3 linked regions of the Homo sapiens genome follow. The protein of the gene in region 3 purifies or fractionates together with the protein of the main gene of each other region. This does not show direct contact. Each region holds a gene or a part of one and is shown on either strand. Other genes may lie near its edges.

What was found.
Region 1: the proteins of FAM76B (region 3) and ADO purify together in Homo sapiens (affinity purification with mass spectrometry; 3 studies listed by BioGRID and IntAct, with this or other methods). This does not show direct contact.
Region 2: the proteins of FAM76B (region 3) and SORL1 purify together in Homo sapiens (affinity purification with mass spectrometry; 2 studies listed by BioGRID and IntAct, with this or other methods). This does not show direct contact.

Annotation. Positions count from the first base shown.
Region 1 is NC_000010.11:62,799,509-62,810,054, reverse strand, and holds ADO (2-aminoethanethiol dioxygenase), read right to left. Parts: upstream 5,336-10,546; 5' UTR 4,996-5,335; coding exon 4,183-4,995; 3' UTR 1,576-4,182; downstream 1-1,575. UniProt on the Homo sapiens protein: Plays a vital role in regulating thiol metabolism and preserving oxygen homeostasis by oxidizing the sulfur of cysteamine and N-terminal cysteine-containing proteins to their corresponding sulfinic acids using O2 as a cosubstrate.
Region 2 is NC_000011.10:121,453,854-121,464,583, reverse strand, and holds part of SORL1 (sortilin-related receptor preproprotein), read right to left. Parts: intron 1-10,730. UniProt on the Homo sapiens protein: Sorting receptor that directs several proteins to their correct location within the cell. Along with AP-1 complex, involved Golgi apparatus - endosome sorting.
Region 3 is NC_000011.10:95,770,504-95,781,233, reverse strand, and holds part of FAM76B (protein FAM76B), read left to right. Parts: intron 1-1,285; coding exon of another isoform or gene 1,286-1,307; coding exon 1,308-1,355; intron 1,356-1,546; coding exon 1,547-1,627; intron 1,628-2,098; coding exon of another isoform or gene 2,099-2,108; exon of another isoform or gene 2,109-2,156; intron 2,157-2,276; coding exon 2,277-2,412; intron 2,413-5,210; coding exon 5,211-5,312; intron 5,313-9,583; coding exon 9,584-9,673; 3' UTR 9,674-10,730. UniProt on the Homo sapiens protein: Negatively regulates the NF-kappa-B-mediated inflammatory pathway by preventing the translocation of HNRNPA2B1 from the nucleus to the cytoplasm.

The sequences.
Region 1 (10,546 bases), on a different chromosome or scaffold from region 3:
ATAAACCTGGCTATTTAATTTCATTATCCCAGCTGCTAATAAGATTAAGGCAAATTGTTTCATATATATTAAAAATGGCTGCAGTGACATTTTAACCACTTAATAACCACTTTTGTGTGTGTGTGTCGGTGGGGGGGGGGCAGGGGGAAGAGCGGTCAGCATTAACACAAGTCCCAAAAATGCTGCCAGCAGAAGCTAAAACTAAACAAATACTACAGGAAAACAAAACAAAAAATAAGGAAAGAAAATAAGTCCTAAAACTCTTTCCTTCCAGAATGAAAGTATTTTTGTTTTCTTGTATAGTACTATCTTATTTTCCTTAGGTTAAATACAAAGTAAGCTTTTTTCTGTTACAGCAAAATAGTCCAATTAGACATTAGCTTCAGATGTGTTTTCCTTCAGGCTGTTTCAAAGCTCACTCTCAAGGAAATAAACTATTTTTAAGTGTATATTACTTGGGCTTTAGAAATCTGCAGAAGGCCACTAGATTTTAGTACAACATAATCTTACAGTATATACTGTGAACCTTTCATGGTAATCAAACTGTAGACATCAGAGCAGGTAAGGTTTTCCCTATCTGTCTTGCAATAATCAAGTAAGAATTATCTCTAAACAATTTGAAACATGTCTTCATTTTCCATAAGTACACTGATTTTTTTTTCCTTTCTTTTTTGAGATGCAGTCTTGCTCTTGTCACCCAGGCTGGAGTGCAGTGGCATGATCTTGGCTAACTGCAACCTCCACCTCCCGGATTCAAGCGATTCTCCTGCCTCAGCCTTCTAGGTAGCTGGGATTACAGGCGCCCACTACCATGCCCGACTAATTTTTGTACTTTTAGTAGAGATGGGGTTTCGCCATGTTGGCCAGGCCGGTCTCGAACTCCTGACCTCAGGTGATCTGCCTGCCTCAGCCTCCCAAAGTGCTGGGATTACAGGTACACTGATTTTAATCCAGAAATGTAAACATCCCCAGATTTGGGTTTGAAGATTCAATATCTATAAGGGACTTGACAAATGGTTTCCTTCTTTGACAACAGATGCCTCATTGCAATGGAAGTGATCAGTGATTGGCTTCTGTATATACGCTTAAGTTATTTAGACCTGCAATTACAAAAGTAGCACTGCTCTCAGGTTAGAGTTGGAAAGCAAGAGGCAAGCCCTGAATTAAAGATATATTGCTTCTTCACTGGGCTGTAGAGCTAGAGCACAAGATTCAGAATCAGTAACAGATGAGTAATGGCAGAGTCCTCCCGAGATGCCAGGACTGAGGCACCTAGAAGGAGACAAGGAAAAGGGGGAATAAAAGGTGTGGATTTTGGAAGAAGTTCAGGGTTACTGGTGTTAAAAGCTCAGAAAACCCTCTCCTGTTGCCAAAACACATATTACTTAAAAAGCAGGCTACCACTTTCATTAATAAATAGCAGTTGGTGTAAATGCAACCCATTCAAATCAGGCTTAGTAAAAATCAATTCTCATAAAATAGTAAGTAGGTACACAATACTCTGCATTGATATAACTGGCCAGTGACAGAACCAGATACTTTAAAAGCTTCAGAAGCATTTAGACAGACAATTTCTCACCCATGAGGCAATTATTGCATTTATTATTCACCATAAAAGTGATTAATATCATTGTGCTCATTAGTCTTTCCAAGGGGAAGATAACTTTTATCCCACAGTTGTTATTAAAACATTATCTATATTGGACGGAGTATATAGAAACACAATAGCAACACACCAAGTCAGTCACGACTAACAGTTTATGCACACAGGTGCAAGATAGTTTCTGCACCACATTTTGTCTTTGTAATAAGCATATTCTTTCCTCAGTGGCTCACTAAAACAAGTTATATTTTGTCTTCACCACTAATTTACTCAGAATTTATTAGTGAACCAAAAGTTTCACTGTTCTTATTGAACTAAATCTGAGATATCATATTGCTGTTTTGGCCTGCAACAATTTCAGTTACTCTTTTGAAAAGCACCTTAGGTTTTTTCTTCCAAATTGCTCGTAATTGAAAACTTTAAAACTTCTTTTTTTCATAATGAAGTCATAATTCTTCCTTTATTACTATCCTACAGCCAGGATGAGTTTTCGTAGCTTTAATGTACTAAGTTGTATTATAACACATACATTGCTATTAATAATCTTGGTAAGCTAATCAACTTTTTGCTACAATATAATCCAAAAAAGTATGTGATTGATAACCACATTCATTACTGTGCTATGGAAAAAAAAACAAGATCTTTTATTTTGTGAAGTTTTCTAAGAAAATCATTTGCATATCTAGAATTTTATTTTCAAACTAAGTGGCATGAAGAACTGCTTCAAACTGCCCCCAAAGGCATTTTAAACTACACCAGAATGTGGAGCTACAATAAAACAATTTTAGCAACAATGCAGGAAATACTTGGTACTATGCCTGTGTCAGGTTTTATAATAAAGTGGCATGTCCTGTGGAATATCTTTTTGTGTTTTGTTTTGGTTTTATTTTTAAATCACTCACCAAGTATTTGCTTTTTTATACTATCTTAAAAACTGGGAACAAATACTCCCTCACCCTGGGTCTCTGTGTGCATAAAGAGGCAAAGGCACGTACTGTTTCTCTACATACGGGGTCAACATTCCACTAATAATAGCAAATCTCCCTTTATTATAGATATTAGAACTCTATTGCCACTTGGGCAAGTCAATCAAGAGGGCTTAGACGACAGCTGGGCAAATTTTAATGTGTTTATTTCTACAATTTCTTTTTATTAAAAGTCTTGTGAAAAAACGGAATCCTATAAATAGTAAAAAGGGAGAAACAGTGCTCCATGGCCTGAAGCAAATGGTGTCAATACATGTGTAAACAAGGTAAGACTGCTCGGACTATTAAAAGCACAAAAATAAAACTAGTCACAGATAGCAAGACTTCATTTCAGGAGTTGGGAGTGGGAAGTAGGAAGTGTTTAATCCCAAGTTTTGGTGCCCTAAAATGGCTAGTAGTATAGTTAATTCTCAATTCTCTAGCTGTGATCTTCTGTGCCTTCTATCTCTTCCTAAGGAAAACCACATTAGATGAACCCAGGGCTCAGTCATTTTAGGGAGAGGGTTGAGACAACACTGCCAGCAACACAGCTGGAATCACCCGAGTCGGGAACATTAAAGTTCCTGAGAGAATATGAAACAACTATCAACATAATATTTCTCCCTACTTTTACAGTAAAATATTGGAAGTAAATAAATATAGGGAATGCAACAACTGGCTAGGAGTGTTTTACATTCAGTTGTTTGGAAGCATAACACATTCAGCTCCTTTGAATCTTCCCGTTAGAAAATACAGAATTACTCTATCACCTTTTAAGGTACAGTAAGACAAGAAAAAAAGTCATGTGAGGATAATACAGTCTTTGCATTAAAGGTGAATCTGCAACATGAAATCTGCTCGACTCACAGATCTGGAGATTCATAGGGAAGATAAGCTCTAAGTGACCATGTCACAGAGATATGCAGGTGCTGAATTTCTTAGTAGATGCTGCCTGAGTAAACCAGATGTGGCTACTGGGCAAAGGGAGGAAAGAAAATAAATCTTGTCCTCTACATGCATAGTTATGTTGTGAGAATGATCCCCAAACTGAAAAAATCATTTAGTTTTCACAAGGAATTAATTAGGCAGGCCAGCTCACTTTAAACAGTAGCTCATCTCCTTAAACCTAGTTTTTACCAATGACTTGAACTAAAAACAATTCAAACCACTGGGTCATGCACAGTCAATAAGTTAAAAAACTATAAGAAAAAAAGGCATAAGGGCATGAGTGGAAAATAAACCCTATTTAACTAAGGGGTAGGGAGTGGGAGCAAGAAAACCACTTAGTATTTTGTATAGAATGGGGAAGAGAGGAAGATATTTTCATTATGGCTTTAGGATGGAAGCGCTTCAGATAGTCCCCTGCCCCATTCCTCCAAATCAAAGCCCCAGTGGCAGTGACAGTACCAGGAAACAATCTAGCCTCCCCGCCCACCCCGCCCCCATAACCGTGCCCGGCGGCTGCTGTCCAGTCGCCCGTGCTTCCCAAGGCTGCCGAGGAAGCGGCTGCTGCTCATTCCAGTAGATCCAACGCCCAGGCTAGGGGGTAGAGACACAGCCCTTGTGGTAGGGTAGGGCACGTCTTCGGCCCACCGCTCCTGGGCGCCAGTGGCTTCAAGGGAAGACCTTGGGACCTGGATAGGGTTCTCCCTCGCACCAGAAGTCATCGGCCTGTGGGGTCTCCAGGAGCCACACCTCTCGAGGCAGGTCACAGGCCGAGCTGGAGGCCTCCTTGGGCCTGACCGGCTCCAGCACCCGGTAATAGTGGCAGTCCCGGCCATCGTCCGGGTCGTAGGGCGGGGCCAGGATGTCCAGGAAGGCGGCAGGCCCTTCCACGGCGTCGATCTGGTGCAGGTTGTCCCGGTGCGGTGTGAGGATGCAGGGGCCGCTGGCCTCGGTGTACTCGGCCCGCGAACGCAGCACGCCCGGCCGCACGGCTTCTCGCTCCCGGGGCTGCAGCGGCGGCTCGAACTGCTGCTCGGGCGGCAAGGCCCGCGGCCGTTGCCCGCCGCCCGCGTCTAGCTTGTCCATGCAGCTGATGCGCACGGTGCCGTACAGCACCTTGAGCATGCCGTGCATGCCCGGGTGGTCGTGCAGCGGGATGGACGTGCCGCTCTTGAGCAGGAACACGCCCAGGCTGAAGCCGTCCGTCTCGTAGATGTGCATGTAGGTGACTGGCGGCAGGTTGGGCGGCAGCGGCTGCAGTGTGGCCTTGCGCGGGGCGATGTTCAAGTCCTCGGCGCGGAGCTGGGTCAGGAGGCTCTTCAGCTTGCTCAGGTTCTCGGGGAAGCCCGGCTGCATCGGCGCCTCCGGGCCAGAAGCCGCGTCGCGATCGGAAGCGCCGCGGCCGCCCCCGCTGCCCCGGAAGGTGAGGCAAGCCTGGCGGGCGATCCGTTGGATCAAGGAGGCCATGTTGTCTCGGGGCATGGTCGGCTGCTCCTCTGCGTGCCGGGACCGGCCCCCTCCTTTCCTCCGCCCCTTGCGGTCCCCGGCGGCCGCCACGGCTGCCCCCAGCCCGGGTCGAGGCGGGAGGCCCCGCAACCACCGGCCCGTCGGGCGCGCGGCACCGCCGCCAACCTCAGCAGCCACGCGCCCGCAACTGCCCGGCGCGCTCGCCTTGAGCCCCCTCTGAGCGCGCACGCGCACGCCCCACACCCCGCACTCACGCTCCGGGAGCAGATAGCGGCCGCGCAGACGGTGCCAGGCTTTGCCTTACGCCCGGCGCTCCATTCATGCGGCCCGCACCTACGACGGTGGCCGGGCGCCCGGGGACCCTGCGGAGCATGCCGGGACTTGTAGTCCGGCCTTCCGCTTGAGCTCTGAGATAGTTCAGTTTGTTGATTGGAAAATAGAGGAACTATTACACATGTTGGGCATAAAGCGATCTTTTTCAGGATGCAGAGGTGTTTTTCTTGTTTTAGAAAAGATGAATCGGGGTGGAAGATTAGTAGCCACTTGACTACAACTCCCGGCACTCCCCGCAGGGTGGAGTGACGCACTTCCGTCAGCTGGCCCCCGGAGTAGTGGAGGCTCTTGGCCTTCATAAGGAAAGGGGCAGGGAGGGTCGTTAACCTTCTGGCGCCGCGCTGGGGCCTGGTTAGCCATGCAGGGTCGCCTTCCTTTGGCCTTGCCCCTGGGAAGGAGGCTGTTGAGTCAGCCTTAGCTCCTCGTAGCGGCCTAGGCAGCACTGTCTCCCACGGGAATTGCAGGAGGGCGCTTTTATAATTTTGTGTTTCCTAGGAGGGGAGGGGGTCCAGGCCGTCCTCTGTGATCATCAAGGTTACTCGGCCCAGCTGGGCCCAGCTGGGCCCAGCTGTTGTTTGCATCAGGACCTGATGACGCTGCTCTTCTGGTTACAGAGCAGTATAGCTTTTTGCTGGAGAGACTTGAGAGGCCATTTACAGTGGTCGTGGATTCTGAACATACTAGTGGTTATCAAATCTTGGTTTGCCTGAGAAGGGGGAGCGGGCTTTTATAAATGCAGATTCCCTGTCGTCACCCAGAGATGGAGTTACTAGATGGTTCTGAGGCATCCTAGGAGAAATAGTGGTGTGCAACAGTCAGTTCAGTCAGTAATTGTGAAATTGTTTCACTACACAGAGGCATCCTTCTCCTTGGCGTGAACTAACTTTTGGCATAAGTAAATGACTAGAAAAGCAAGACATTAGATACTATGACTTTAAACTTAACCCTGAGTTTAAAGTCTTTTTGGATTCCAAAGCTGAACATGGGTTTCTTGTACATTTTGTAATTGGAGTGGTTCAGTGAATCCTCTCCAGTTAAAATAGGCATACTTTTTAAAGTGGATTACATAACCTGGCTAATGAGTACTCACAATATGCCAGGCACTGTGTTAAGTGCATTATATAATGAATGTTATACTATTTAATCCTTGCAGCAACTCTTAAGAGGCAGGCACTATTATTATTCCCAGATTGCAGATGAGGGAATAAGTTGTAGGATAGTGAATACTAAGTACCCAGCAAAGCATGAGCAGCAGAGCAGAAATAAGTACAGTCTTACCAAAAACAGCAGCTTGAATTGGTGTAAAAGCACCAAACGAGAGTCAGGATATTGTTGTTCCAGCCTACTGTGTGTACTTACAAGCTGTGTGTCGTTAGGCAAATCCTACCCTTTTAGGGCCTCAATTTATTCATTTGTAGAATGCCGGTGTTAAGGGAACAAAAGTTCTGAACCCTACTCATCAGAACCCCCTGGAGAGCTTAAAAAATAAAGATCTTGGGGTCACACCTCAGAGATTTTGATTCAGAAGAACTGGAGTGAAGCCTATTTTTTTGTGTGTGGTTTTTTTTTGTTTGTTTGTTTGTTTGTTTTGAGGGGTAACAAGGTTTATCGTGAAGAGCGAAATAACAAAGCTTCCACAGCTTGGAAGGGGACCACAGCGGGTTGCCCCTATGATTTATATTTAAGATGCTTCCTCAAGCAATTATTATTATTATTTTTTTTTTTGAGACGGAGTCTGGGTCTGTTGCCCAGGCGGGAGTGCACTGGTGCGATCTCGGCTCACTGCAAGCTCCGCCTCCCGGGTTCACGCCATTCTCCTGCCTCAGCCTCCGGAGTAGCTGGGACTACAGATGCCCGCCATCACACCCGCCTAATTTTTTTTTCTGTATATTTAGTAGAGACGGGGTTTCACCATGTTAGCCAGAATGGTCTCGATCTCCTGAGCTCGTGATCCGCCCCCCTCGGCCTCCCAAAGTGCTGGGATTACAGGCGTGAGCCACGGCGCTCGTCCAAGCGATTCTTGATCATTAGCTCAGTTTGAGAACCACTGGTAGAGCTGTAAATAGTGAACCAGCTTTCATTAGTTAAGAGGGTGGTTATTTGCTTTAGGAAAGGATTGTTAAGACTGATTCATTTTTAGAGGTTGCCATGCCATTGTTACGTTATTTAAATGTACTTTCAAAGCTGATAAATAAATTTCATACAGTCTTTTTTCTAAAGTGAGAAGTATTTGAGAGTAAAATTCTTCCCCTTCCTTTATTTACAAATATGGACTTTTATTTATTGGTTTTACTTCTATTAGGGTATAATTAGTGGTAAGTATAGACTCCATGGAACACAGACTATATTAACATGCAGATCTCTTGCACTTAATGGTTGTCCACACTTACTTAACTGAAGCTCAAAATTTTCATCTATAAAATGGGATAATATACCTGTGTAAATCACTGATGACACTATGTAGAACATAGTAGCTGCCCCATGACAGTAGCTATTATAGGTTTAAAATGGCTATAAGTTGTACTTAAAGACCAATGAATTTAAATAATACTAAGCAAGTATTGAAATGGAATTTGACTTGTTTTGAGAATCAGCTTCAGGGTAGAGATAAAAAAGATTATTGCTTAAACCATTTACCTGGTAATTTGCTAGTCATCCTTTGGCCTGAGTTCAAAGTTTCCGAAGACTGCCTGTATCAGAATCACTTGGGAGTGTCTGTCAAAAGTGCAGATTCCCAGATCACGTCAAAACCTACTGCATCTGAATCTTTTGCACATTAAAAATTTTAAGAACCAGGCAGGCATGGTATGGTGGCTCATGCCTGTAATCCCAACACTTTGGGAGGCCAAGACAGGAAGATCGCTTGAGGACAGGTGTTCAAGGCCAGCCTAGGCAACATAGCAAGACCCCCATCTTTACAAAAAAAAAAATTAAAAAATTAGTTGAGCATGGTGATACACGCCTGTAGTGTATTCTGGAGGCTGAGGCAGGAGGATTGATTGAGCTGATGAGTTCAAGGCTGCAGTTAGCTATGATTGCACCCCTTCACCCAGGCCTAGGCAACAGAGTGAGACTGTCTCTCAAAAAAAAGTTTGTAAGAACTGCTGAGTGTCTACAGGGCATGTGGTACTTTTTTAGGTCACAAAGAGTCTACCTCCATAATTCCTTTTGATGTTGCCCTTCATTCAGAGCTGCACTAATGGGTGATATTGACTCTATGGGCTTTTGCCCTTAAGAAGCAGTTTACTTGCCCTTCTGCCCCACTGCCAGTAGCATAGGCTGAGTGGGTTTCTATTAGCATTAACATCCTTCTTTTTTATCCTTGTTGATTCTGTAATTCTTCAGTGTTGTTATAAGCAAAATGGAGACCAAAAGAAATTCTGAAAGGGAACAGACAGGAAGAGAAGTGATAGTGAACAAATACTAGGAAAATGCATGGCAGAGACAAGGTTTAGGGAAAGTTTAGGATAGACAAAATCAATCGTTTGATAAACAGTCAGTATCCACTGAGTACCAGGCATTGTTCTAGGCTTTGGGGATTCAGCAAGGAACAAAGGAAGACAAAGTCCAAATTCCCAAGGAGTTTACCTGCGAGTAAATGTGTATGTTTGAGAGGATGGAAGCGTTATACAGCGCGAGTAAATGAGCAACATACTTTTCAGACAGAGATAACTTAGGAAGACAGTAAAACACAGTCATAGACTGGTGTGATATTTATTTGTGTGTGGTATGTTACTTTAAATTGGGTTATCAGGAGCGACCAGATGTTAACATTTAAGCTATTTTTGAATGTTAAGGAGTTAGCCATGGAAAAATCTGGGGTCAGAGCATTCCAAGACCAGGAAACATCCTTAAGATTATTAACAGGGTATTGACTATCACAACTTTGACCACGTAGAAAGGAACTTGGTATAATTAGGAGAGAAGATGAAGACCTGCGGGGTTAAGACTGCGTAGTGAGCTTCCAGGTTCCTGGAGGGAGATGCAGGTGCAGAGGCCAGTAGGGATTGTGTTATGTAGGCCTTATAGGCTGTGGGAGGGGGTAATAGGGAGTTGTAGGCTGTGGTAGGGAGTTGGATTTTATTCTAAATGCAGTGAGAAGTCTTTGGAGAGCTTTGGGCAGAGGAGTGATTTGATCTGTTTTACATTTTTAAGAGGTTGGTGGTGGGGCGAGTGTAACAGCAGGGAAACCTGAATGAGGGGCAGTAATCCAGAAGAAAGACAAGAGAACTAGTGTAAGGATAAGAATCTGTTTGAAGGTACAGCTGACAGGGCTTGCTGATGAGCTATTGCTTCAGCAATCTATTTCAAAGTGTATTTTCTCCATGTTTTTTCTTTCACAGGTTGACAGCTTTGTGGTGATAGGTAAGACTGATACAGCTTAAATCCCACCTCCTACCCACATCTATTAAATTTAGGAATGAGGGAAGCACACAGAACCATGAGTAAAGCTGAGATTTTTTTTTCTCCTCCTTTACAGTTGCTTAATTAACCAGGAAACAAGGAGAGCTGGAAGAGCCCCCAGCCTATATGGATTTAACTCCACCTGTTCATTTCTATGATCTCTTCATTCTTTGGGAACTAGGCTTGTGCTTTTGCCTTTCGTTCTTCTTCCCCTACCTCTTGACTCTATGAGGACTGATTTTCTTTAATTCACAAGATACATTACCTTCTGGCTTTTACTCAAATCTTCTTCAGAATTCATTTGCCCATTTCTTTTGGTCACACTGAGATCCAGTGGAAAGAGTACAAAAGATTATAATGGTATTCTCACATGCTCAGACTTCCTAGTCTGCAGTTTTGTTTTGTTTTTGTTTTTAAAGTGGGAACTAAGGTTTATTTTTTCCCGAGTAGTCATTTCCACCTTATTCCGATATCTGCCTTTTATATTAGTATAGAACATGGTAAATAAATAGATTAAAATGTCCCCATTTTCAGACTAATTCATAATTATATTTGAAGTATTTTGGATTCATATTGTGGCTTTCCTTTCAGTTTTTAAAAAACATGAGTGTATATTTCTCATTCCTTATTATGAATGAATGTCATGTTGTAAGAAAAAAATAAAAATTTCAAAGTCAGAGGAGCTGGTGTCATGGCTTTGCCACTGACTAGCTGTGTGTTACCGAGCAAGTCCACCCTCGCTGGATCCCAGTTTCTGTGAGAGATGATCTATCTGTAAGATTCCTTCTGGCATCTCATTAGCTCAATGTGGAGGACAGAGACAATCACA
Region 2 (10,730 bases), about 26 Mb from region 3:
TATTATTCAGAGTGAGGGGAAGGACCTGCTACCACCCAGTCCTCAAGTTCTGGGTTGTTATAAATAGAGGGGAGGAAGTCAATGGCTTGGATGAAGGGACTGATTACTCATGCGTTCACTTGCGGATGAAGTAGGCACTGAGGTCTGCTAGGTGCCAGGCACCCTGTAGGCTCTTTAATCATTTCTTACCTGTTAGCTCACACAGAGCACTTCTGGGGGAATTAGGGTTGCAAGTCTAAGCCAATGATGAGAAGTTTCCAATAAAACCACCGAAATCTGTATAGTTGTTGAGGCTTATGCAGGAGGTGGGGCCACTGAATAGAATGGGTCACAGGTACCCTCTCTACACCTCTTTCAAATTGGTCAAACCCAAAAATCAGGATGTCCTAGACTCCCACAGCTTGCAGTCCTCACAACTCCTACACAGCCTCCTCCCAAAACGCAGTACAAGGAGGACAAATAAGGCAGTCTGATTCATTTCTCTGCTTCACTAGCAGTGAAATACAAAGAAGCGTTTTTAAAATTCTACAATATAGCATAAAACAAATATCCTGTCCTTCAACTGTGAGGACAGAAGGAGCCAGGCACTCCCCTGAACTATATGACGAAACTGAGGAAGTCAAAGACAGCCTCCTGAGGTCCAAGGAGAACAAGGTTTTCCCAAACCATCCCTTTGCATGGCTTAAATGCTAGGTATGCAAATTGCCTCTCACTGTCCCCTTTCAAGACTGTGTTCTCACTATATTTAGCAGGCTTATTATCCTCCCTGGACTGCTCACCTCAGAAGGAAAGCTGAAATCTAGTTTACGAGCACTCCCGGAAGAGAGGCCCAGTTCATGGAATCTCAGCTCACTCACTTGACTTTTGAGTTTGCTCAAGATGCTTCACCTACAGAACTCCTGAACTACTTTGCTGATGAATTCAGGCTGCCCATTTTCCAGATGAGGAAACAAGGAGAGAATAACCTTGGACTAGAACTTAGCATTCACTACTATCTCCTTCACTGGAGCCATGACCATTCTACAGAGAAAAATACACATATGCCCTTTCCTTTCTCTTTGCTAAAAGGATGATAATCATAATCTCACTGCCTTATAATATCAGTTTAGAGAGCTTATTTCCCTTTCTGATTGATCCTTGGCAGCGAGAACCTATCTACTGTTTACCTCTGTGTGCCACTCTGTCCTGGTGAACCCACTTTGTCAATGAGCGAATATGCTTTGCTGTTTTGGGAGGGGCTCCCTACTAAAAAGAAACTGTGGAAAACTCTCTTTCTCATGAACATAATATCACCCCTTAATTTACCAGTTGGCAAAAAAAAAATGAGGAAAATATCAAAGCCAGAAAGAATCTCAGAGAACAATTAAATGAAATGCCACCTTTTGCAAATGAGATTAAGCTCAGAGACAGACTTTAAGGCAATGTGGTGGTTCTCACTGCCTGAAAACACACGGCCATGTGCAGGAAACACAGTCAGAGTGAGCACAGCAAATACCCCCTCAAGAGAGCGCACCCCAAGCCAGGACTTGCCCTACGTGAGGATTTCCCTGTGAGCCCAAAGTCATTTCTCACAGCTCTTCAGGATGGTTCCAGACCACAGACTTGCCCTCTGCAGCTTCACCATGAATAGCCCCTCACCGCGTTCAGTCAATAAGTATTTATCAAGCACTAACTATATACCAGATGCTATACTAGGTGTTAGTAAAATGGCAGACTCACATCTGCAATCCCAGCACTTTGGGAGGCCAAGGCGGGTGGATCCCTCGAGCCCAGGAGTTCAAGACCAGCCTAGACAACATGACACAACCCCATCTCTACAAAAAATACAAAAACTAGACGGGCCTGGTGGCGCATGCCTGTAGTCCCAGCTACTAGGGAGTCTGAGGTGGGAGGATCGCTTGTGCCCAAGAGATCGAGGCCGCAGTGAGCTATGATCATGCCACTGCACTCCAGCCTGGGCGACAGAGCTAGACCCTGTCTCAAAAAATAAAAAAGAAAGAAAAATAACACGATTCTAGGTCCTGCCTCATAGCTCTGAATATAGTAGGGAAAACACGCATTAAACAACTAATTCCAGGAATGATGATTGAATTACTGTTGTTACACAGGGGACCTAACCTCATATCGGGGAGAGAGTGAGGCTTCACTGAAGACCTGACCTATGTACTGACACCATAAGGATGAAGAGGGAGGAGTTAGGGAAAAGGGGATGGAAAAGTGAGGCAGAGAACATGGACCCAGACCTAAGGCAGGGCAGAGCAGAAGCCAGGAAGGAGAAGGGCCTTGAGACTTGCTGTGTTTGAAAAATTACAAGATCAGTGTGGCCAGGAGAAAGTGGAATTATGTGAGATCTCCAGGTTTTAAAGGTGGAGAAAAAAAAGTACTGCAAAAAAGCTGTGGATCCCTGCTTGAGATCAAAAATTTCACTAGATTACTTAGGATAGACAAATATGCCTGCATAAATCTGAAACAAGTTAGCGGGTTGGTTTGAGTCTTGTTCTCTCCGGTTTACCACCTGTCTAACTACGGGTAAGTCACTTCACCTTTTCAAGCTTCAAGATACTCATCTCTGAAATGAGATGAATAATCATTCTTATCTTCCCCATTTTTCAAGATTGTCGTAAGAATCAAATGAGATGCAGCCTGTGGATGTCATTTCATAAACTTCGACGCACTAAAACATCATTTCTTTTCATTACCAAATGCCTCTCAACCAAAATAAGCCATTCCTCACAAAACGGCTCCACATAGAACATTAACATTAGCGAAAGGCCTAAGAGCAAGCGATGACATATATAAAATGACAAAACACTGCACGCCTGAGTCAAGCTAGGAGCTCCTGCCTAACTGAAACTCACAGGCAGTTTTCTCCTTGATTCCCAGCCGAACTCTGAAACCTGGGGAAACCCAACCTCCAGGTCCCAAGGCTCCAGCCCAGAGGCGACACTGTTTTCTAGCACTTTCCTAACTCCAAGAGAAAAGCATGTAAACATTACATCCCAGAACCGAAGGCCTCTATACCCTACCAGTGGCTTCTTCACCACCCTGTGAGGGCAGCTATAAACAAGACTAATGGAGAAGGGGGAGTGCATTAAACCCATGGCTTGGCCAATTTCTCAGTAATAGGAGATGCCCTCTGGGCTACCAGGAGGTGAGGCAACAGGCGGACGTCCCACAGGCTCTGGTCTGCTAGCTAAACTCCCCCAGCTCTGTTTAGATAGCTCTTTCACCTCTAACCAACTTTCCACATCCACTGCTTCATTTTTCTCCTCTAGAGATTGAAGGCCTTGTTTCTGCAGTAACCGTCCCCCTCCAGCCCACCCATCACCACCACCACCAACAGCACACCTTGCCAAATTCAGCAAACCATGTGCACAGTTAACTGCAGATTTTTTTTTTTTTTAACCACTCAGTGAGAGAATTTCAGGGAACTAAATGTACACAGATGAGGTAAGTCATAGGTACAGAGTCTCAGGTTACTCAATTAATTGAGCACAGGTTCAAAGCATGCAAGTCCTTCCAAACACTTCTGGTTTCACAGGACACTCACCCCACTCTGCTCTGTCCCCACTCCCTGCCATCTCGGGCTCCTTGGCTGAGATCCTTGGGCAGATCAGCACTGGCCTTTCTCCCCAGGTCCCTGGGGCAGAGACAGGTGGAACTGTCTCGCATGTGTCTCCTGGGCTAATAGAGAAATGGGGTCCTTAACTATCTGGGACCTTAACCCTATAGCTTGCTATCTCACAGGTACCTATTAAAGTCTTCCCAGCCACAGTCCCCAAGCTAGCCTTTCTCCACAGGTGGCTCTTAACCCAGGGCCCTCCAGGCTCAACCAGATCATACCAGCCTTTCCAATGCCTCTGGGCACAGAGTTAAAAATTTCACCAAGGCCAGGCACGGTGGCTCACACCTGTAATCCCAGCATTTTGGGAGGCCAAGGTGGGTGAATCACGAGGTCAGGAGTTCGAGACCAGCCTGGCCAATATGGTGAAACCTCATCTCTACTAAAAATACAAAACAATTAGCCGGGCGTGGTGGTGCGCACCTGTAATCCCAGCTACTCAGGAGGCTGAGGCACAAGAATCGCCTGAACCTGGGAGGCAGAGGTTGCAGTGAGCCGAGATAGAGCCACTGCACTCCAGCTGGGTGACGGAGCGAGACTCTGTCTCAAAAAAAAAAAAAAAAAAAATTCATCATGACACTACACCTCAGCTCACCAGCCCCCCAAAGTCAGAAGGAAATCATCTCAGTATCCCTAAAATATTAAAATCCCAACTGAGGGCCCACCCATTGATTCACCCCCACATTTATTTCATGTAAGATTCACCCTAGTCATCTTCCCCCAGGGTTTCTACTCAACAGGCTAGTCTCTCTTCTAAATAATAGAGGTCACATCAGTTACCTTCTTCATTTAAAAAACCCCCAGAAAGGGGGGGAGATAATAAACAACATATTGGTCTCTACACGGCACAAATGCATTTGATATAGGTACATCTTTTTATTGTCCTTGTCAGCCACTCAGATTTGGGATATAATCACATCAGCCTGCCTTTCTGAGAATTCGTAGCTGTGTTTTGAATCTAATTCAGGGGACTGGAGATAAATCATTGTGAAGGGTCCTGATTTTCCAAGCTAAGAGCCTGCAGCAGCAGCAACAGCAATGGCAAGCTAAGTTAAAAGGTCAGCCAAGAAGTGGGGGAGGTTTATATGCAAAGATGAAGACCACACGCCTGTAGTGTTTGTCTTCATGCCAATCTGGAGGGTTGAAGGGAAGAAAGACAGACCCAGCTACATCAAGGTAAGTCAACAAAAGCACAGGAAGCAAAGGGCAGGGCAGGGAGATGGCCCCACTGTTAAGGCACTGTTTACATCTTTCATTGCTAAACAGAACGTGCAGGGTCTGCGCTCCACCTTAGCAAAGCCCGATACAAGTGCAGTGTTTGCGCAAGGCCAGATGAGAAGTGAAGCCACAGAGATCTGGTTCACCCTATGAATAGCCAGCCTTCATTGACTAAGTGACTGACAGAAGGAGGCAACTGTGCAGAGGCATGCCCTAGAGCCAACCACCGGACCCACTTGGCCCTCCACGGTCCCCCTGGTGAGTTCCTACCTAGGAAAGAAGGACCACTGTCTCCTGACACTCAACTTGGCAGTCAGCAGCCACCAATACCTAGGGTCTAGACCCAAGCCCTCCACTCTTGCTTTTATTGCCCTGTTTGCCCTGCCTACACGAGCAGGTCTTTGCAGGAACTTCTCTCTTGGGTGAAGCAGAGGTTGCCTACAGGTGGGAAGAAGAGGCCTTGTCAAAGCTTGTGCTGTCTACACAGTAGCCAAGAGCCACATGTGGCTATTTCAACTTTAAATTCGTTAAAATTAAATGAAAGACACTTCAAGTCTTCAGTCACACTTGCCACATTTCACCTGCTCAATGGCCAGATCTGACTAGTGAACATGGTGAACAGCACAGATAGAAAACATCACTATCACAGAAAGATCTATTGAACAGTGCCACATCGGAGGGTCCAGGACGCGGCCAGGAAGATAGGATCTTCCAGCTCTTGGCTAGTAGCAGTGCTATGGGCATGGATGTTACCATTATAATAAACAGTTACCCAGTGGATAACAGAACTTTGTAATTATTTTTTAACACACTAGTGTACTTGTGATCGTTACGCAGTCCTATTTTTACGGAACCCACCATAAAATGCACAAAGCATTGGTCATGTTACAGTTAAAAAAAACTGAGCATCTCACAATAACACAGGAGGAAACTCAAATCTTGATCTTGCTCAGCAGCCCACCCTGCCTTTTCTGGATTTTAGCTTCATCAGCCACTTCAGCGCTTGAAGGCCGCCCATGCCACTTCTTCGAAGGCCCAGGGTTCACAGGTCGATAAGCCAATAAATTAGGTCGAAATTAACTGTGGCTCATTTTAAATTGAGGGAAATTGATTTTTGCATGTACGTGGCTAGACTGACTATACCATCTGCCAACAGTGTCTGGCATACCTAGAAAATGCATAGGAAAGTCCCATGCTCATCAACAGAGAATGCCTCACCCCCACAGCCCAGACCACCTCTGGAGAAATACTAATCCCTGAATATTCAAACCAAAAATGCAGTGAGCTCTCTTTTACTTTCCATCACATTTATTTAAATCCAAATAAATGGAGGAAAGGTCAATGTAATGCCCCCAGGTTTTAATACATTTTTATTCATTTAAAACATTTAATACATTTTTATCAACTCTCAATTATCTGCATCTGAATTATTGTCGCAAATTCTAAACTCCAAACTGCCTTTCCCTGAATACATTTAGGCCAGCCATTTCCCTTATCAATAGATCAAAGAATGCAAACTCATTTTAATATTCACCTGAGCAAAACTTAATTAGGAAGGTAAACGAATGCTTTAAAAAAAAGACTACATAAATACATAGCAAAAGCAAATCGATTATTTTTTGGATTACCTGCTCTCCAGATTATGATAAGACTGCCCCCTGTGTCCCTCCATTACAGTGGGTGGAACAAAGCTGGCTCCAACTATCTCTGCCCTGGGATTCAACAATGACACTATGAAGATGGCTGTCATCTCTAAGGAGGAACAGACCAAAATCTGACAATGAAATGTTCCTACAACATCCACCTTTTGCCTTGGGATGTTCGTTGCTATAAGGATCTGCCTCGTGGATCCCAAGTCTCAAAGCAATTTATTAAGCATACCATTAACTTCATTTTACAGAACATAGAGAAAACATTCTCAGACAGAACACAAATTAAAACCAAGATCCATGATCACTGTATTCTGATGCTCTTACAAGCCTGGACTCCACATCTCAAGGGAACTGTGCTCCAGCATCTCTCCAAGTTACAAGGGGGCTACATCAGGCTGCTCTCCTGCTCTGCAAGAACGCTTGAAGTGAAAGGAGAATGAGGTTTTTCTCACCTGGCCTGGAAAAAAAGTAATCATCTATTTTATATTATGATACTTCAGGTAATTTTCTAACAATTCACCATCATAATATCACAAATATAATTTAGAGCTAAAGTTAATCTCATTATTCAGGATACCAGGGACTACAGGTAACAGGAAGCCATTTATAATTCAAGTTTCCAATTTTATGTACATACATGTTGTACATGCATAGACTGTTTCTGGAAAGATATACAAAAATATTGATAACAACGGATGCCACCCGGAAAGGAGCTCTGGGTGAACAGGGGGCATGAGAGGGAAGGAAATTTGTTACCACATACGCTTTTGTACAAATTTTGTTTTGTAAACGTGCATTACCTAATCAGACAGCTTTTTATTTCATCCCTCCAAATTCCGCCTCCTTACTCTTCTCACCAACCCCTTTCCTCCATTCCTTCCCCCTCGCAAAGCCTCCACCTTCTGTGCCTCTAACCATGCAAGCTATTTATGAACTAAAAGCGGCCAGAGACTGGGCACAGAGCTCCCTAAGAAAAGACGCCAAGTGGAACCAGGAAGAGCTTTTCAAGGTCACGTCCCTTATTGAGCCAACCCAAGGCCCCGAGCAACTCTTCAGCTACATAAAAGCCAACCTGAAGCAGCACATTCTTTGCCTTCTCATCTTATTCTGGAAGCACACAGGTCAAACATCCTAACTTCAGAATCAACCAGCCAATTCTTTCCCAAGCAAGTGTATCATGGAAGAATCTACTCAAAAGAGATCTAAAGCTGAACGGTATTCCACCCCCAAAGGAGGCCTTTTGTCCCAGGGCCTTGTGCTGTAATAGACACTTTATTTTCAGTCTCAAATCAGGACACTGAATACTCCCTGGCTTCTAAAATGTAGGAATTATGAAGAGAGAGCTTGTTGGAAGGAAAATAAACCTGTAAATCCTGTTAGGCTTTGTGCTTTATTCCAAAGGATTTTTCCCCAAAACAATACCATTAGCATAAACCAGAATGATAGCCCTAAAAGGGAGGATTCTGTAAAATAGAATCCAAGCTCTTCATTGAAAATAACTCCCATATAGCACAGGCAAATCAGGGCTCCACTATCTGTAGGCCATGCCGCTTGCATCCTCACTACCGAATGAGCCATCTCATTTTCACTATCCATGTGTGGGTTCACTGTATTCCTCCTTACAAATACATTTTATATAATGTGAATGTGCTTCCTACCCTCTGGGCCTCTCTTCTTCCAGGTGTGTGGCTGGTCCACAAATACTCATTAAGGGCCTCCCAAGTGCCAGGGAAACACAAGAGAACTTGATCCATGCCCTCAAGGAGCAAACAGGAAGATGAGACAGTTGAGCAATTCTAACACAAGGCAGTAAGTGCTGCCTCCAAGCTCAGAAGAAACTCTTCCCACCATAGCCTGAGAATACCAAGAGGTATTCCTTGGATGTTAAAGAATGGAATAAGAGCTTCCCAGGCAAGGACAAGAGTTGGGGAAGATCATTTCAGGCAGAGGAAAAAGCAGGTATGATGGCGCAGACAGACAGAGCTTATGAGAAATCAGGAGGAAATTCAGTGTGGCATGAATTAGGGAATCCCTCTTCTTGGACCTGGCCTTTAAGAAGGGGCTCAACTTCTAAACTTTGCCTTTTTTTTTTTTTTTTTTAGATGGAGTCTCACTCTGTCCCCCAGGCTGGAGTGCAATGGCGCGATCTCGGCTCACTGCAACCTCCGCCTCCGGGGTTCAAGCGATTCTCCTGCCTCAGCCTCTTGAGTAGCCAGGACTACAGGCATCTGCCACCACGCCCAGTGAATTTTTGTAGTTTTAGTAGAGACGGGGTTTCCCCATGTGGACCAGGCTGGTTTCGAACTCCTGACCTCAAGTGATCCACCCGCCTCGGCCTCCCACAGTGCTGGGATTACAGGCGTGAGCCTTGAACATGGGCAGAAAAGTCCTGATATCTGCCAGCAAATTATTTTCACCCCTACAATCACATTTCAGTATCATAAATGTGCCTTTAAGTAATCATGGCAGAAGCCGGTCTCCCCACCTTAGAGAAACTGAGGAGGAAAATGGTCAAAATAACCAAGCCTAGTTTACCCAAGACATTAGCGAAGCAGAGGAAAAAGGACCGACATTGACTCCAGCACAGGGCTCTTTCTCAGATGCAAGTATTCCCCTAGAAAGCCTTCCCTTCTCTTCTCCCTGAAGGTGGTGGCCTTAACATCGCCTCTAGGCCTGCTTCCTTCAGGCAGCTTCTGCTTCCAGCCCTAACCTGTGCTGCCAGTGTCCTCTTAACCTCACTCAAAGGTCAGAGGGCAAGAAGCTGGACAGTGTCTGAGCCCACCACCCCTTATCTCTCCATCTCCCATGCGCTGCATGTCACACAGCCCGTTATCACACCATTGTAGAGTTGTGGCTGGTTTCTTGTGACCATGTTTCCTGGTTCCCATCCTGGTACATTGACATGCCTGTATCTGCATCTGCTTGCTCTCCTCCTTAAATTGTAAATTTCCTAAAAGCAGGAATGAAATTTTATTCCCCAGCTCACTGCACCTCCATAGAACCACACTCAAGTCAAGCAGTACTGTTGGAAAACATCACCATTCCTTAGGTTTAAACGTTGAAGGGGAAAGTCGTGATTACAAAGTGGAACTTGGCTTAAGGCTAAAAGTAGGACCATATAATTTATTGTCACATCTTGACACTTTTGAGAGTGAAGGGGGTGCTATTCATAACCACCAGAGACAACTTAGAAACCAGGTCTGCCCCAGGGAAACACAGAGGCAATGGTCATCCTTGCTAGAAAGATCATTCCAAATAGATGTTAGTTACTCCAGAGTTCCAAGAGGGGCACCTCAAACCCCTTCAGTCACCAACCTGTGCTTGCATTCTGAAGGGTCTGCACCAGATAGAACTTGTGGCAGAAAGCCCAGTACAGGGAAGTTCTTCCTTTTATCTGACTCAAATCCTTACAGATTCAAATTAATTCCACTTCTTATTAACCTCAGAGCAAGAGGCAACAATGGCATAGGAAGGCAGCCACAGAGAAGAAAAATCTCACCCTTGTACCCTCACCCTCCGGTTAGGAATTCCTCATTATGAGTTTGACTGCTAGTTCTCCATCCTTCAGCTGAACCAAACTCAATCTGGCTGGCCCAGAAACTCAAAAGCCCAGGGTTTGGGAGTCACTCCCAGTGAGAACAGAGTTCATGTCCAACCTGCCCCACATCCCCTGGAGCTTTTCATAAACCAAACCCAAGAAAGAAATGGCACATGTACACATATTTTTGAAACCAGAAAACTTTTTCCTCAACCTAAACTATAGCTTCAGGGGACCTGAGCACTGGGAGGGATTGTCTCCCACCAGCCCCCAACTCCCAGTTCCCAGAATGCTGATTCAAGAGCACAGCAGAGCTGGGCTGACTGCGGAGGCCCAATGAAGAAGTGGGCCACTCCTCCTCCTTCTCCCACCCTCCATCAGCCCCATGCTGGTGTCGCTGTTAAGAGCAAGGACCTTGATGACTTCTTTTTGTTCATACACATATTTGTCATATGGGGTGGGGACAGGGGGACAAGGATCTGGGCCCAAGAGGAACTGAGCATGCAGGTTCCTGCAGCCTGTGGCCACCATTAGTTACATGCCCTGGGGCACACATTCTTGCCCAGGGACCAATAGTGGAGGGAAATCCAACGCTCCCACCCAGTCACCACCATCCTTTCCCCCTTTATACCAGATCTATTTTATTTTAGAAAGGAGGTATTTCAGCAGCATTGCATAAAGACAGGGTGACTGCAGTCAA
Region 3 (10,730 bases):
AATGGACAACCCTCAGAAAGATAAGATGGGAATTCCAAGTGTTTCTGTCAGTGATATTAATGTGATTATTCTTAACTTTGAGATATGGTTAGTGCTGTTAGTTCATGTATGGCTTGTTAGGCTTATAATGAAATTTGTGGGAAAAAAAAAAAAGGGACAACTGCATTCCTCAATAGGATTTCCATTCATTCACAAGTAAGAATAACTCACTTGATGGAATTATTGCTATTAACATTTTTTTCCCAACTTGGTACTTGTTTACAGCTGAGTCTTAAGGTTTGTTTTTTTCTTTTGCTTAAAAAACTTCTACAGCTGAACCAATAGTAAATTTTAGACACAAGTAAACATGTATATATATATATGTCTATTTTGTATATGCTAGCACTGTACTAAGTGATTTTACATATATAACTCATTTAATGCTCATATCAGTATAAGGTATGTATTACATATGAGGGAACTAAGGCTGGGGATGTTAAGTAATTTGCATAAGGTCACAGCTCAGGTATTCTAACATCTTCTAAATCGTATAAATACGTGGCATCTGGTTCATAGGAGATGCTCTCTACATGCTGAGTGAATAAGCTAGGGTTAGTGAAGCATTGACTGATATGCAAGTTTAGGAGGAAAAAAATGAAGGATTCATGATGAATTATAAAGTGATTATTAGTATTAGGGTAAAATAGAAAAGGAGTATTACAGTATTAATTATGAGTAAAAGTAAAATAATTTGTTACTATGAAATTTCTCAATAGTTTCAGCGTAACTTCTCCAGAATACTAACTAAAGAGAGCTCTATGGACTTTGGAGAGGATTCTTAAGAAAACTAGGAAAGAATCAAAGAAATCAATATATTTCCCCATTTAAATTGAAATACTATTCTGAGCAACTTGAGTTACTCCAAAAGAAGAATCTCTACTTCAGATTATTAGGAAAGCCTTAACTTTAAAGATACAAATTTTGTGTCTGAAATAGTAAGGGCAGCCAAAGTACAGTGATACCTAGACACAAGCACGAAAACTACTTGTGTAACCCACCCTTTGTATGATATTAAATTGAACTGTGGAGATCCTGATTATAAAGAATTCTTGAAGAACTTGAGATGGTTAGCAGTCATTTTATTAAAATTTATTTCATCAGAATGTGATTTATTCAATATGTATTAGCTTAGTCTGAAAACTTAAATATACCTTTCTCTGAAGAAAATATTATAAACATAAAATTTGTATCCATTGAGAAAGAATGTTAAATTTAGATGTATTAAATAAATAAATGTCATTATTAGATGTCATTTGTGTATTTTTCAGAATCAGCAATCTAAGTCCAGAAGAAGAGCAGGGACTGTGGAAACAGAGGTAAATACATTGCTGTATTTTCTGAAGTATTTTGAAATGTATATTTATAAATGTGATATCCCTTCAACTTTGTTACTTAAGTCTTACCAAAATCAGTATTTTCAGTAATATTTTAGGGGAAGATGAATAACTTATCATTTGGTTTCTCTGTCCTTTTTACTCTAACTATTCTTATTAATGTTTGGTTTCAGCCATAAATCCTCTGCAACAATTCAGAATGAAACTCCAAAGAAAAAGCCCAAATTGGAATCTAAGCCATCTAATGGAGATAGGTAAAAATGAATTCTTTTAGTGTTATGAAAATTCAACTTAGTTGAATAGTTATGGTTGAATGCCAGTTATTACTAGATAAAAAAATAGAAACATGTATTTTCTACATTGACTTGAGTCACCTAGAAGAATAAACATAAATTAGTTTAAAATTTTTAGCTTAATTTTGGCAATAAGAAAGTGGCACTGAACTATGTTGTTCTATTTGGGAAATAAATTTGGGTTTTGAAGAAACAAATTTGAATGGAGAACATTATTTTTATCTTTATTCTTCAGTGAAACACAAATCTAATTGTGATATTTTAAATTGACCTGCTTAGAAAATGTTTTTAGATTAAAAATATTATGAGCGTTACTTTGTTTTAGTTCATTAGCCAAAAGTTTGCTGATGTTACTGTACAAATTGGCTGCCTATTGCTTTACACTAGAAGTATTGACCCCCTTAAAGCTAATACTGAATTATATTTCTGCAGGTGTATGTAATGTGTGCCATTAGTAAGGTAATTTGCCAGTTGCATCCATTTCTGTCAGGTACATATTTTTTTGCATTAGCCTTAAGGATGTTTGTGGAATTGTCTAATTTATGCAATTTGAACACCTGCTAATTTTCCTTCTACTTCATTTAACTGTGTTTTACTTTTTTCTTTTTAGTAGCTCTATAAATCAGTCAGCAGATAGTGGGGGAACAGACAATTTTGTCCTTATAAGTCAATTGAAAGAAGAAGTGATGTCACTTAAGCGTCTCTTACAGCAGAGAGACCAGACCATTTTAGAAAAAGATAAAAAGGTAAGAACATGGTTCATTGAAGCCTGGTAAGAGTTATGTGTTGACTGTTGCTTGATAATCGCAAATTTTATTAGACTTCCTTTAATAATTTGGTAATGTTTGTTGTGCGTGATTTTTATAAGACAAATTACAAAAGCCCCTGAAGCCATCTAATGAAGATGGGTAAAAATGGTCTTTCAGATTTTTAGTTCTAAGAATTAACTGAGGCTTAATTAGGATAGTAATTTCCAAACTTTAATTTTCAGTAAGCATGTAATTTAAAAATAGATCTAATACCTAATTAAAAATGAGATGTAAATGGAATATTTCATAAACTTTTTTGATTTAAGAATGTAGTTTGAACAGTCTTTGATATAACATTCATATATTTGTATCAATCCAGTCATATATTTGTATCAATCCAGATCAAAATACTGCTGAAAAGTAATGGTATGGGAATTTCCTGTAGTAGTCAGTAATAGTAATTAGCAATAGATGTCTAAAAGCTCATTGTGTAGGAAGTAAGTGTACTTATTGGGACTTCATCAGTTAAATGAAGAGGAATATTAAAATGTGTTGTTCATTTAGTGAAAAGAGGAATATTAACAGAATTACAGAAGGATTTAAGGTCTTGTGCTATGAAATCAGGATGGCACAATAGTGGACAGGCATGGAACAGGAAACAGTTTTGAAGTAATTTAGCCATACTTAGATTCAAATCCTAGTTCTAACATTTTCTGTGTGACCTAAAGCAGAATGTGTGCTTCTTTGGACCTCAGTTTTCTCATTTAAATGAGAGCATTAATATTATCTGAAGTGATGGTTTTGATGATTAATGAAAATGCAAAGTATTTATTATAGCTCCTGGTATGTATAAGTGCCCATAGGGGCTATTACTGTTTGATCATCTTTTGTACTTGTTTTATGGTCCCAGACAATGTAGTTTGACCTGTATCAAATGTATTATGCAGTAGGAGAACACTAAAATCATTTCTTTTAAAAGAATAAGGCCTTAATATGAATACATATATGACTTATATCCATCTCTAAGTCTGTGCTGAGTTGGCTTTTACTTCTGGCATTCAGTAATTTTTGATACATTTTGCCACACCTTGATGGTTAGTGGGCTTAATTTATTTTAATACATTTGTAGCTTACTTTAAGCAAATTTAGTATATGAAAATTAGGAGTGACATATAAAATAGGATAGTTACGGGTGTCTTTGTCTTATGGTTCTTTTTGATTGACAGCATTTTTTAAATTAATGAGCCTTTATGGAAATTTGTCCTGTGTACAAAGTTTTAGAGACAGGCCAGATATATCTGCATTAGCCTTGAGAAAAGTTGAATAAAATGCCAACTTTACTGCAAAATAGCAATGATTTCAAAACCAAGTAGTAATCAGTTATAGAATATTGACTGCTAGATTTTTCTTTCCTCTCTAGCATAAGAGGTACTATCTTTGTATTGTGCAGTTAATTGAAGTTTTCTGCTTTTGTTAGTGTTCCTCTTTAAAAAAATCACAACACTAATGGGGATTGAAATTAGCATTGTTGTAAGGAAAATCCTAATGGTAAACCTAAAATAACTATACATTTGCAACTTTTTCTTATAAATCTAAGATGATGAAGTTATTTTACTGAATTGATTTCACAAAGTTATTTAATGATTTCTAGAGCCAGACACTGAACTAGATCATGAGGATACAAAGATGAATAAATAAGACATAATTCTTATTTTCCAGAAGTTCATAGTGAGGAGGCAACTCACAGTGTAGTGAATAGAGTAATTGTCTTAGCTGATCTGGTGTATGTTGGCATTTCAGAACAGAAAATCTTTTGTGATTAGAGAAAGTTAGAGAGAGAGAACTTAGTTATACTTTGAATTTGACAAAAGCAAGGGTTTTTTTTTTTAATAAGACTATAAGACTCCATGATTTTCTCTATTTTTGCTGTTGTATGTCTTTCAGTTTATTAGATACTGGGTAATTACAAAGGAGAATGTGTAAACCTTTAAAGCTGGCATAATGAAAAACATTAAAAAATAACCTGGAGTTCCCTCTGCATGGTTCTAATAGTGAAATTACATAATAACTTATTTAGTTTGAAGTCATGAGATATTATACTGTTAGGTATGTCATTTATGAAAAATTATCATGTAGCCTTCTTCCTCAAAGCACTGATTTTTTTCTTGTATTTGTCTAATTTAGCCCAAATTTTATAGTAACCTTCTTTCCTTTCTCATTCTGTGTTAGTTGTATTTCTGTGCTTTGTTCTCTATTTTTACCTCAAGTGTTAGGTGGTATTGTGTACATAATCCTGGACATAAATTAAAAAATGAAAACAGTGTAGCTTTTGGCTGAAAAGACCATTCCTTTTTATATTACCCAGTGTGAAATTTCTTTCTTTAAGCATTGAAAGATTATTTTACGCATAAGCTAGTTTAAATGTTTATATTGTTTTTACTATTATTGAAGTACATTTTTAAATGAGGCATTTTCCCAGTTATTAGCCGTTAAGCTTTTTTCGTTGGCATACCAGTTGCCAAACTCTATTTCCAGTCGAGCCATGTTTAGGAAAAAAAGAAAACTGAGAAGTTTTACTGATGGTCAGGTATTAACATTAAAATTATACTATTGTGAAGCAGATAGACTTCATCATTTCACCAAACAAACTTTAGATAGCTTGTACAATTCAGGAAACTGCAGTTAACATCTTCTACTTTTGTAATGAAATGTGAGTTTATTGTGAAAGTTATTTAAAATGGTGTGTGTGTGTATGTGTGCAAATATATACATATATTTTTTCTTTAATCTCTCAGTTAACTGAACTAAAGGCAGACTTTCAGTACCAAGAGTCAAATTTGAGAACAAAAATGAACAGTATGGAAAAAGCCCACAAAGAAACTGTGGAACAACTTCAGGTAACTACCATCATTTACGTAAAATGATAGGCAAGAAGGGCTAAACTTGAGTAATAGCATTCATTGACTTAGATTGTTATTGGTAGCCCTATTTTGTGCATAGTTGGTGCATTTCAGTTTTGATTTTGACTTTATAATCATTTTTAATCTTGATCTCATTAGAAGTTATTGTTTGAAATTACTTGAAAGGGGGATTCAGTACTTTAATCTTGAAAACTTTTGCCTAAACTTCAAATGGAGTTTTTGGAGGAGGGTATCATTGGAGTGTGTTCAATTAATTATTGGGCTTATAGCAAAAAATTAAAAATCAGATTAATGAAACTAAGGTGAAAAGCAGGTCTTCAGTAGCAATCATTCCTCACATTAATATTTCCTTCCAGATAATGGGAAAGGAGATGGGTGTATAAAACCAATTCTTAAGGACCTGGAGTGGCAAAAATGTGTGCAAAGCAAGAGAGTTTACTTAACCTGTGTACAGTGGTTCGCAAAGTGCCAAATAGGGTTCTGCTAAATGCTAACAGGTAGTGATCCACCTGAACCTCAGAGTACTGCAAAGTAGCAGTTTAAGTATACAGAACAACTGAATGGTAAAGTCAAGAGTCACCACAGTAATAATCTGATGTCTGGCATGCAGAGATGGTGAACATCCAACATGGATACAGAATGCTACCATATTAAGCTGCTTCTCTTCTAGGTTTCATACATTTAGAAATCAGACCACACTAAATTAATTACATGTTCTCTTTGATTTATACAGTCTCACATTTGTAAAATTAGTCTTTAGTAACAAAATTTTTAAGGTGAAAGAAGTTTTAAATGTTAATGGAAGATGGCAGCACACAGACGTCAGACTTGGGAGAGTACAGCTTCAGAAGGAAGGAGTTAATACTGTCCTGTTTCATTTTGTTTTTTTTTTTTCACATTGTAACACCAAAGGATATTTGCTATTTCTTTCTTTTGGTTTTGTATTATTCATACTTCTTTGCAAGTAGCTTAAATTAGTAGGATTTAGGAACTTGCTCAAATTCGAGGTACAGATTATCTGGTCTTAATCCCTATCATACTATTACAAAGACTGTTGAAAAAGGAACCTCATGTAGAACCTGAGACATAGTAGGCATTCAAATAATTTGTTGACTAGGTGGTGATTTATGGAAATGCCCATCAGCCCTCTGTTCTGAGAGATTGCCCGTATCATATATCAGATTCTTATATATTAGTCAATGTTTTTATCCACCAGCAAGTATTATTTTTAATTTTATGTTATTCCTGTTTTTCTTACTCAGTTATTAATGCTGAATGATTACCTGGAACAAAATCTTCCACCTGGTGATCTTTGATTTAATGTAATGTAACCAAAGCTCTGAAGTAAATCCAGAATGAGATAACAGAATAACTGCAATAGGTGCTCAGATATGTTTTAACTTAGTGCTCCCCACTGTTCAAAAGAGCAGTTTGTGTGTTGGTTTTTCTTTTTTAAAATCATAGTTGCAAATACATGGGGTCATCTTTGACTTAGCCTGATAGATATCTTAGGCCTACCTCCTCTTGGTAATTGAAGTTTCATGTAGTATAAAAGTAACCAATATTTAAATAGGACATTTTGACATGATTTTACATATGCTGTCTTACTTGTTGCAAAAACTGGGTTATGTGATATGCCCATTTTACAGAGGAAACTGTGATCACACAGTAAGCGGTGACGTAGAAATCTCTGTCTTCTCACTCCAGTTTATCTATACTTTTCCCTGTCCTACACTAGTTCCCACCACTTCAGGTTCCTCAGGTTTTCTATTTCATCCTTCCTATCAGGCCACTTCCCTGATTTTTTTGTGTTATGGCTAGAGACAATCTGTCATAGCTGAGTGCCATCTTTTTACCTCACTTCCTTTAGCAACCAAGTGATACTAGTAGGATTCTTTACTGAGGTGAGGAAACCGGTAATTTTTTTTTTATCTTTATGTAATAAGGAATTGAATCCTGTGACACAAGATGGATCTTGCTCTAATAGCTAGTAAAATATTTTTAACTGCCAAACCTACGACAAAACACTGAACATCACATGAAAAAATTGTTCAAAATGTCACCCCAAAATACCCCAAATATTGAAAATACTAAGAATATCAAGTTAAAACTCTTATTCACTTAATTAGGTAAGTGGTTAAAAGGAAAAGGGACCTAACATTTGAGTGCCTTCTGTGTACCAGGAACTGTGTTAGGCTAAGTGTTTTATATATTTGATAAGTTCCTTCAACTCATTTTGAGTTCGGATGGTGGAGTTTGTGTTACAAATGAGAAAATATGCTCCAGGTTATGTAGCTGGTAAGTAAGCCAGGATTTAAAGCAGGATCTATGTAATTCTTAATCCTGATATTCTTTCCTTTGCACCAACATGTCTAAACTTTAAAACTTAGCTTTCTTAAGAGTCTGTAAAGAATTTCATTGATTTTTTTTTTTTTTTTTGGCTGGCTGCAAAATGAAGTAATTTTAGGATAAAACAATTTAAATGTACATATATTGAAATATGGCATAAAATTCATTTTTAAAGTATTCAAATTAGAATAATTTGGACTTGTACTTAACAATTGTGTTATTTATTTACCATAAAGACTTTTGTCTTATGTAATTTATTAAGAAATATCTTTATTAGTGATATAAATATATTAAAAGCAAATTGGAAATTAGCTACCAAAGCATTAAATGGAAAAATTGCTTTGAAGACCTAATGTTCAAATTATTGTATTTTGTACTTAAAATATGAAAATTATAAACACTTTATTTCTTGATAATTGAGATAAGAACTTGGAGATTCACATTTTAACTATTTTGTATCAGTATAAACATTTTTAGATAAATATAACTTAACAGATCTAGTGGAGATCTTTTTGAGTCAAATTTGCAGACTCAAAATTTGAAATTGATACTGAATTTGAAATTGAAGTTTTTCGTTACCACCTTAGTTATTAATAACCACTGAATAGGAAAGTTCTATTGATCATGCATCTGAACATAAAAAATTATTTGATTTGCACATATAAGATAGTACTGAGAATATTTGCATTTTAGAGGTCATGGGTGTTAATTAGCAAGAGTGATTGGAGAAGAAGGGTGGGGGAATGGAAGAATAAAGTTTGAAAAAGGTTATTTCATGAAACCACTTTAAGATGGCATACAGAGAAGGCAGAGTGTTATCTGCCCGTAAAAAGCTAAAATTAGAATAAAATATGAAGTACTGAGATTAAAAAAGTCTGTCTATATAATAAAAATTCCTGGAACCTGTGAAGGAAAATGGTGTTGAAACATAAGTCAGAGGATATCTTTTTAAAATGTGTTAATTTTAGGGCAGTGCTCTATTTTCATCACTTTCCCCATTTTGGCTCAAACTACAAAAATGCTTGATCATTAATGTATTTGTATATATAGGGATCCTTACTATCTAAGTTTTCATATTTAAGAGACTGAATAAGGTGACAAAGGCAGTCAAAATGTGAAAATATTCACTGTACTTACACATTCCTCTTCACTAAACTAGTGATGGATGGACATTTAATAATGAAATTCAAGTCAGATGATGAAATGAAATTTTGAATCTTTGTAAAAATTCAAGCTTTCATGAGATAGGAAATGATGATGTGGAACTGCTCAAACCACACTAAAATCAGTGTCAGATGACTGGTAACTAAAGGAACAACAAGATAATGAGTGGTTCTGATGGGTGCTTTAAAAAAAATTGAATATCATTGGGTGCATTTGGCAAAGTAACAAATTCTGAGTTGTTTTTGCAAAAATGACCTCTTATGCTTGTTCTACAAGAGAGTAAACATAGAAAAAAGACCTTATACAGCTTGCCAGGAAATACTCCTCCCAAATCTTGATTCATTCTTTGATTTTATTAATTGTAAATTACAACTTATTTTCATAGTTTTCATGTTTTTAAGATGAAGGGCCAAACACCTTTTCCCTATTAAAATTTGGACCTTCTTTTAAGTGGATTCACTTTGTTTCCTTTTTTGTAACCAATTGTGCATCTTTGGACACAATTATATTAATAATGACATATACAAAGGGGGCTGATGAGCCAATCTAGAATTTTCCTTCTGCATGTTCATCCTTAAAGAGATGAATGTAAAGGTATCAACTCTTTCATTTAATGTTAGTGCTTTAGTGAAACATTTATATAAATGAAAACAGTATTAAATAAGTAGTATTCTTCAGCATGACTTAATAATATTTCAAACATTTTTAATCTTGAATGTTTTTGTCTCCCACAGGCCAAAAACAGAGAACTACTCAAACAGGTCGCAGCATTATCAAAGGGTAAAAAATTTGACAAAAGTGGAAGCATACTAACATCTCCTTGAGAAAGTCATTTGTTTAGCATTTCTTCTTACAATGTAAATTTGGGGAAAAAAAATTCTGTGAAGCCCTTAAATTCTGTGTAGTAGAAAAATATTTTTGCACACCAAATGAATTGGTGTGTTTCCTGTTCACTTTTGTAATTGATATACAGCATTTTTTAAGTTGTAAAACATTCAAATAAAACTTCAACTGGTTTGAAGTAACTTTTTAATTATTTGATATCCAGGAACTTTTTTGCCAGCAATAGTATTAAACAGTTGTAAAGGAGTGCATGAGTAGTGCTCTTTATGAAACGCAACATGCAATAATAGAGTAGGTATGGTTTCAGAAGTCAGAGCAGCAGGGTTTTTTTGTTTTGTTTTTGTTTTACACTATGCTAATTTCAGACAAACAGTTTTCAATTTAGAAATACAAAAACTTTTAAACTCGAAAAATGGCGAACACTGGTTTTTTGGGAATTGTGTTTTTACTTTGCATCAAGATGAATTTAGGAGAAAATCACGGTGCTTTTATTAAATGAACTTCAGATATATGTAAATTTGTTTTTTAAAGTTACATCATTAACATTAGTAACCTAGCATTTTCATTATTGGTATAGGAATTAATGTTTATTGTACAGTATCTAAGGTAAAATGTGTTTCTGTTTTGTAAAAACTACTGTAGATTTTTACTTACAAGTGCCTTTTTGCCACCTAATGTTTTTATTTATAGGAATGCTGATCTTTTGTACATACATTTTGTTTTAAAATCATGTTTAATAAATGTTTGTATATAAATGCATATGTACAGAAGCCTATTTCAAAAGGAAATCAAAGTTGCTAGTAAAATGTTTGAGATTACATTTAGAACTAACTGATAATGCATATAGATTGTAGAAAATTTTGTGATTTGTTTCTGTGTGATAAGGGAAGCTGTTGGTCTTTGAATTCATTTAATTATGTCAAAATAGTTCCCCAAAGATTTAATTTTAAGTTGCTTCTTAAAGAGTAATTTTATTTTTTATGTCATGTGGCTTCATATTAGTATTGTGTGAGTTACATGTTTTGCTTTATATTTTAT